Homo sapiens: one gene and its partner. The protein of the gene in region 2 interacts with the protein of the main gene of each other region in a pairwise test. Each region holds a gene or a part of one and is shown on either strand. Other genes may lie near its edges. The genes, in order: FKBP5 and KSR2.

Evidence for each region.
Region 1: the proteins of KSR2 (region 2) and FKBP5 interact in binary tests that used the Homo sapiens proteins (3 or more experiments, as listed by UniProt).

Annotation. Positions count from the first base shown.
Region 1 is NC_000006.12:35,619,416-35,622,915, forward strand, and holds part of FKBP5 (peptidyl-prolyl cis-trans isomerase FKBP5), read right to left. Parts: intron 860-3,500; coding exon 717-859; intron 1-716. UniProt on the Homo sapiens protein: Immunophilin protein with PPIase and co-chaperone activities. Component of unligated steroid receptors heterocomplexes through interaction with heat-shock protein 90 (HSP90).
Region 2 is NC_000012.12:117,755,707-117,759,736, forward strand, and holds part of KSR2 (kinase suppressor of Ras 2), read right to left. Parts: intron 1-4,030. UniProt on the Homo sapiens protein: Location-regulated scaffold connecting MEK to RAF. Has very low protein kinase activity and can phosphorylate MAP2K1 at several Ser and Thr residues with very low efficiency (in vitro).

The DNA of each region.
Region 1 (3,500 bases), on a different chromosome or scaffold from region 2:
AATGCTAATGTCTAGAACTATATCCTAAGGGACTGCAGTGCAAAGATAGGAAATACTAGGAAAACTACCCTGTGGGCAAAAAGCCAGAGCTACAAGGTGCTGGTGTAGAACTATTTTGTTTGAGGCCACAACTTTCCCATCCTGGGTTTATGGAGTTCCCTTCTCAAAATGTAAGAATAAATCTCATGGATGTGACCTACGACTGATTAAAGGTGTATTTTACCTAGCTGGGGTGGTTCTTAAAAATCAAGTTTTGCCAAATATATGTAATTCAACATAGGATGAATAATGTTTTATCACCACCAACGGCTTCTAGAGAAGTGAGATCTGTGACACATAAATTTTTATAATATGTAAATACCCCGCAACGTGACATAGGCATATTTCAACATTTATCGCCAACATTTCCATCCTGTACTCTGGTCAATTTTGAGTATGTCACACTCACACCATGGACCAGAATCTTTATTTCTAAGTGTAGCGTCTTTTGTTTATTTGGATATGACCTTTTTGTGCTAGAAACACGTTTCTAAGAAAGCACTGGCACGCGCACCCTTGGGTTTGTGGGAAACAATTCAAGAAGCCATGCTCCAAAATAAGTAAGTTGGATCTGATTCTCTATAGCAAGCTTAGCTCCTTTTCCCACTGCCTGTTGCTTCAAAGCCATTCCTATTGTAGAGCAGATGCTGACAAGGCAACATCACACACATACTTGCCTCAAAAAAGAGAGTTGCATTCGAGGGAATTTTAGGGAGACTGCCAGCCGAGCCATATGCATATTCTGGTTTGCACAGTAAATGGCATATCTCTCCTTTCTTCATGGTAGCCACCCCAATGTCCCATGCCTTGATGACTTGGCCTAAGGGAAAGGAAAAGGTAGTTGAAAGCTATAAGCCCTATTTAAAAAGATTTAACTTTCATAAAACCAAAGTTCTAATTTCCAGTTTTTCATACTACATACTCAGCTAGAAAGTATGGGCTACAAGATGACAGAGTGCTACATACAAATAAATAAATTATTTTTTTTGAAGGCTATCACAAAAGATTCCCTGTTGATCGGCCCAGCACTTTGGGAGGCTGAGGTGGGAGGACTGCTTGAGTCCAGGAATTTGACACCAGCCTGGGCAACACAGCAAGACCTCATCTCTAAAAAAAAAAAAAAAACACCCCAAAGAACCAAAGAACACAGCTGGGTATGGTGCACACCTGTAGTCCCAGCTACTCCGGAGGCTGTGGTGGGAGGACAGCTTAAGCCTGGGAGCCCAGGAGATTGAGGCTTCAGTGAGTCATGATTATGCCACTGCACTCTAGCCTGGGTGACAGAGTGAGACCCTGTCTCAAAAAGGATTCCCTGCTGAAAGGGATGAAAGTAATATAAATTCCTAAACTACTCAAAAATTAAGTCTTTGAAAACTGGTGGTAACATTATCCATGAAATATGGCTATGTTGCAATTGTTGCCTAATTTATCATTTCAACTATAATAAGCGCAAATTTTCTAGGCAGAGATAGAACAAAAATAGTATTGAAAAATAGAGTGTGTCCTAAGGAAGCTTATAATTTAGTTGGGTAGACAAAAAAAACAACAAAACAAGAAGTAACCAGAACAGGATAAATTGCATAAAAGGGTCCATGAAACACATTTCTTCTCAAAATTTAGAATCAGAAAAATGTTCCTTTAAACAAAAACATATGTGTCTTTTTGTCAAACCACAACTACAGAACTTAAAATATTTTATTTTTTGCCTACTTCCAGGAAACTAAGTTAAATTTACTGCTCAATTGTAGAACTATATTAGGCTATATAATTGTAATCTCAATGTTTATAGTTCCTATGATGTGCATCATTATCTTACTGTAAGCAGTATCAAGTCCTTTCGGAAACAATAGAAAATTTAGGCCATTTAAAAGGCTAAATTACATTTTGGTGGGGCATGGTGGCTCACGCCTGTAATCCCAGAACTTTGGGAGGCCAAGACAGGCGGATCACTTGAGGCCAGGAATTCAAGCCTGGCCAACATGGTGAAACCCCGTCTCTACTAAAAATACAAAAATTAGCCAGGCATGGTAGTGCGTGCCTGTAATCCCAGCTACTTAGGAGGCTGAGGCAGGAGAATTGCTTGAACCTGGGAGGCGGAGGTTGCAGTGAGTAGAGATCATGCCACTGCACTCCAGCCTGGGCGACACAGCAAGACTCTGTCTCCAAAAAAAAAAAAAAAAAGGCTAAATGACAAATGAGGTACTCTGTCAATCAGAAATATTAAGTATCTGGGGGCTGGGCACGTTGGCTCGCGCCTGTAATCCCAGCTGTAATCCCAGCACTTTGGGAGGCCAAGGCGGGCAGATCCCTTGAGCTTAGGAGTTTGAGACCAGCCCAGGCAACATGGTGAAACCCCATCTCCACAAAAAAATATATTTAAAAAATGAGCCAGGCGTGGTGGTGCTTGCCAGCTACTCAGCAGGCTGAGGAGAGAGGACTACTTGAGTCCAGGAGGTCAAGGCTGCAGTGAGCTGAGATCATGCCACTGCACTCCAGCCTGGGCAGCAGAGTGGAGACCCTGTCCTGTCTCAAAAAACAAAAACAAAAATGTAAGTATTCAAAAGTAGGATCAGATAAGAGATGAACCCCAGAGGAAGTGAATTTGAAGTGAGCTGGTGGTAGGATATTAGGACAAGGGAAACCCTACATAACAGTATGTAAGCAGGGATAGATAAACCATTTTTTATTCATGACTTTAGCTTAATCTTCATTAAATATTACAACTTTTCAAAATGTCAGCTACATTTATTTCAGTTAAAAATATATGTAAGTGGCCAGGAATAGTGGCTCATACCTCTCATCTCAGCATTTTGGAAGGCCAAAGCAGGAGCATCCACTTGAGCCCAAGAGTTTTAAGACCGGCCAGGGCAACATAGTGAAACTCCATCTCTACAAAAATTTAAAAAATTAGTGCGGCATGGTGGCATATGCTTGTAGCTCCAGCTACTTTGGAGGTTAAGACAGGAGAAGAGCTTGAGCCTAGGAGTAAGAGGCTACAGTGAGCAATGATTATGTCACTGCACTCCAGACTAGGTGACAGAGCGAGACCCTGTCTCTTAAAAAAAAAAAAAAATCAAGTAATACATGCCTATTATTAAAACACCCATGAAAGAGATGGAAAGTGAAAGCTGAAAGGCCATCCATCTGCTCCTTATAAGTAACTGTTACGTTTCTTTGGTATCCTACTGTGTGCTGTCACTTTTTAAAAAAATTTAAAATACAAATGACAGCAAACTAGACATTCAGTTCTAAACTACTTTTTCATTTATTATATATCTTCATCCTCTTTCTCCATCAGTAGAAAGGAGGATGTACATTTTAGAGGTCAAAAATGCAGCATACTCTAACTTCAGAATACCTGGATTTGAATACCAAGTTTGCCCTTTACTATCTGTGTAAACTTGTGCAAGTTATTTAATCTCTGTGCTTAGTCTCCTCACCTGCAAAATGTAAATAATAAC
Region 2 (4,030 bases):
ATCATATGCTAAAAATGATTACGCTTAGTGAGGAAGATACGTCAAAAGCCAAAATGAACTGAAAGCTAGGCTTCTTATGCCAAATGGTCAAGTTGTGAAGGCAAAGGAAAAGTTCTTTTTCTTAAGGAAACTAAAAGTGCTATTCCCGTGAGCACATGAATGATAGGAAAATAAAACAGCCTTATTGCTGATACGGAGAAAGTTTTAGTGGTCTGGATGGAAGATCAAGCCAGACACAACATTCCCTTAAGTCAAAGCCTAATCCAGAGCAGGGCCCTAACTCTCTTCAATTCTATGAAGGCTGAGAGAGGTGAGGAAGCTGCAGAAGAAAATGTGGACACCAGTAGAGGTTGGCTTATAAGGTTTGTGGAAAGAAGTTGTCTCCATAACATAAAAGTACAGTGAAGCAGGAAGTGCTGATGGAGAAGCTGCAGCAAGTTACCTAGATCTAGCTATGATCACTGATGAAAGTGGTTACACTAAATGACAGATTTTCAATGTAAATGAAACAGTCTTATATTCAACGATGCCATCTAGGACTCTCAGAGCTAGAGAGACGAAGTCAGTGCCTGGCTTCAAAGCTTCAAAGAACAGGCTGACTCTCTTGTTAGGGACTACCGCAGCTGGTGACTTTTAAGCTGAAGCCAATGCTCATTTATCATGCCAAAAATTCTAGGGCTCTTACGAATTACGCTAAATCTACTCTGCCCGTACTTTATAAATGGAACAGCAAAGCCTGGATGATAGCACTTTTGTTCACAGCATGGTTTGCTGAATATTTTAAGCCCACTGTTGAGACCGACTGTTTAGAAAAAACAAGATTCCTTTCAAAATATTATTGCTCATCGACAATGCATGTGCTCAACCAAAACCTCTGATGAAGATGTACAAACAGATTATGTGATTTTCATCCCTGCTAATACATCCATTCTGCAGCCCATGGATTAAGGAGTAATTTTATCTTTCAAGTCTTATTATTTAAGAAATACATTTTATAAGGCTATAGCTGCCATAGATAGTGATTCCTCTGATGGATCTGGGAAAAGTAAAATAAAAACCTGCTGGAGGCCGGGTGCAGTGGCTCACGCCTGTAATCCCAACACTTTGGGAGGCTGAGGTGGGTGGATCACCTGAGGTCAGGAATTTAAGACCAGTTTGGCCAACATGATGAAACTCCATCTCTCCTAAAAATACAAAAATTAGCCAGGCATGATGGTGGGCACCTGTAATCCCAGCTACTCAGGAGGCTGAGGCAGGAGAATTGCTAGAACCCAGGAGGTGGAGGTTGCAGTGAGCCGAGATTGCTCCATTGCACTCTAGCCTGGGTGACAGAGTGAGACTCCATCTCAAAAAAAAAAAAAAAGAATCTTCTGGAAAGGATTCCCCATTTTGGATGCCATTAAGAACATTCGTGATCCATGGAAGGAGGTCAAAATATCAACATTAACAGGAGTTTGGAAGAAGTTGATTCCAACCCTCATGGATGACTTTGAGGCATTCAAGATTTCAATGGAGGAAGTAACTGCAGATGCGGTGGAAACAGCAAGAGAACTAGAATTAAAAGTGGAGCCTGAAGATATAACTGAATTGTTGCAATCTCATGATAAAACTTAAATAGACAAGGAGTTGCTTCTTACGGATGAGCAAGGAAAGTGGTTTCTTGAGATGGAATCCACTCCAGGTAAAGATGCCTTGAACATTGTTGAAATGACAAGAAACATTTTAGAATATTGCATAAACTTAGTTGACAAAGCAGTGGCAGGGTTTGAGAGGATCGACTCTAATTTTGAAAGAAGTTCTACTAGGCTATCAAACGGCATCACATGCTACAGAGAATTTTTTGTGAAAGGAAGAGTCTATCTATGTAGAAAACTGCATTGTTGTATTTTAAGAAATTGTCACAATCAGCCCAACTTTCAGCTACCATCACCTTGATCAGTCGGCAGCCATCAACATTGAAGCAAGACCTTCCACCAGCAAAGAGTATGGCTCACTGAAGGCTCAGATGATCATTAGTGTTTTTTAGTATTAAAGTATTTCTAAATTAATGTATGTACATTGTTTTTTAAGACATAATGCCATCATACACTTAATAGACTACAGTATGGTATAAAACATAACTATTCTATGTACTGGGAAACCCAAAATTCGTGTCATTCACTTTGGGATCTTTATCGTGGTGGTCTGGAACCAAACTCACAATATCTCTGAAGTATGCCTGTACTTACTGAAAACAAGTTTTACAAAACAACACTAAAACGCTTACCAGATGCAATGTGTTCCAATATACTCTAGTCTAGGCTAGTCTATTTCATTTTTTTAATGCTGGTCACAAGCCATTAAAATAATGCTATCAACCACAAATGGGTCATGACCACAAATTTAAAAACACAAATGTATTCTAACCTCTTGGGTCCACAGCTGAGAAAGCTAAGATTCAGAGAGGTTAAATCCAAGGTCAAAAGGCTACTTCCTGGCAGGATCAGGACTAGTTTAGACCCAGGTAAATGATGACTGTTGTTATCAGTCTAATAATTGGGACTCACCTCAACTAACGCCTCCTTTATAAATCCTGATCAGAATTCACCTCTACCCATGACCCCCGCTGCCAACATTATTCAGGTTGCTGTTATTTATGTTTTAGTTTTTTTAACACCCCCAGGCCTGCTGCCCTGATATCCCTGTGAACCTGGAGGCATGGTCCCAGGCTAAGTGGTCCCACGGCATTTTCCACATCACCAAACTGACCACTCTGTTCCTCTCCTCTACTGCTTCCTTGCCATGAACCACAGCATCCCCCAAGGTGGGCCAGGGAACTACCAGCCTTGAGGAAGTGATGAGCTTGCTAACTCAGCCAGAAGAAACCTGAAGGGCAAAGCTTAACGCCACCTGAGTCCTGATACACAAATTCCAAAAAACACTAAAGGTGGCCAAGTCAATTTGGAAGGCCTTGAAGAAGTGGGCCATTCAACCCTATCCAGGCAGAATAAATCCTTCAGGGGTCTAGGGAAAGGACAGCATTTAAAAACCAAAGGGCAGCCTCTCTCACTTGGCCTCCATCTTGCAGATTAGAAGATGATGTGTCTGGAGAGTCGGCTTTCTGATCAAGTTTCGCCTTACTAAGTGGTGCACCCTGGGAAAGGGACAGGGAGAAGCACAAAGTGTGGGGCCACCGTAGCAACCAAACCCCAAATGCCTCTTCCACCCTCCACCTTAGCAACCTGCACTCCCAGCCTTCCTGGAACTTTACCCCACATCTTCACCTTGAGGTTTCAGCAGGCCCCAATCTCTGTGGCTCTCACAAAACCATGCAAATCAAACACAACTCCAATCAGAAAAGCATCTATCCTCTGCTTCACCCTCAGAGGTCTCAAACATGCATTCTACGTCTTCAAGCTAGGTTTCACATAGCAGCTTAAATATGACTGTTGTAAAATCACATGTTCCACGTCAATCACTGTAGGGCATTCCCAATGCTTCAGAAAAGAGATCACTCTCTACACTACGGCTTCAGACAGGGCTTGGTAAATCACAGTTCATGGGCCAAATTGGGCCAGGTACCTGTTTTTATAAATAAAGTTTTATTGGAACACTGCCATGCCCATTTGTTTACCTATTGTCTGTGCTGGTTTTGTGCTACATGATAGAGTTGAGTAACTGCAACAGAGACTGAATGGTCTGCAAAGCCTAAAGTATTTACTATCTGCCCCTGTACAGAAAAAGTGTGCCAACCCTTCACTTACAGAATCCTGCCTTTTTAAAATGGTGATAAAATATACATAATATAAAATTTACCATCTTAACCATTTTGAAGTGTACAGTTCAATGGTACTAATTACATTTGCATTGTTGTACAACCATCACCACCATCCATCTCCAGAATGTTTTCATCATCCCAAATGCAAAGTCTATATCCAATAAATAACAACTCCCCATTCTCCCTCCCCTCAGCCCTGGCATCCACCGTTCTACTTTCTGCCTCTATAAATTGTCTACTCTAGGTATCTCATATTGGTGGAATTATACAGTA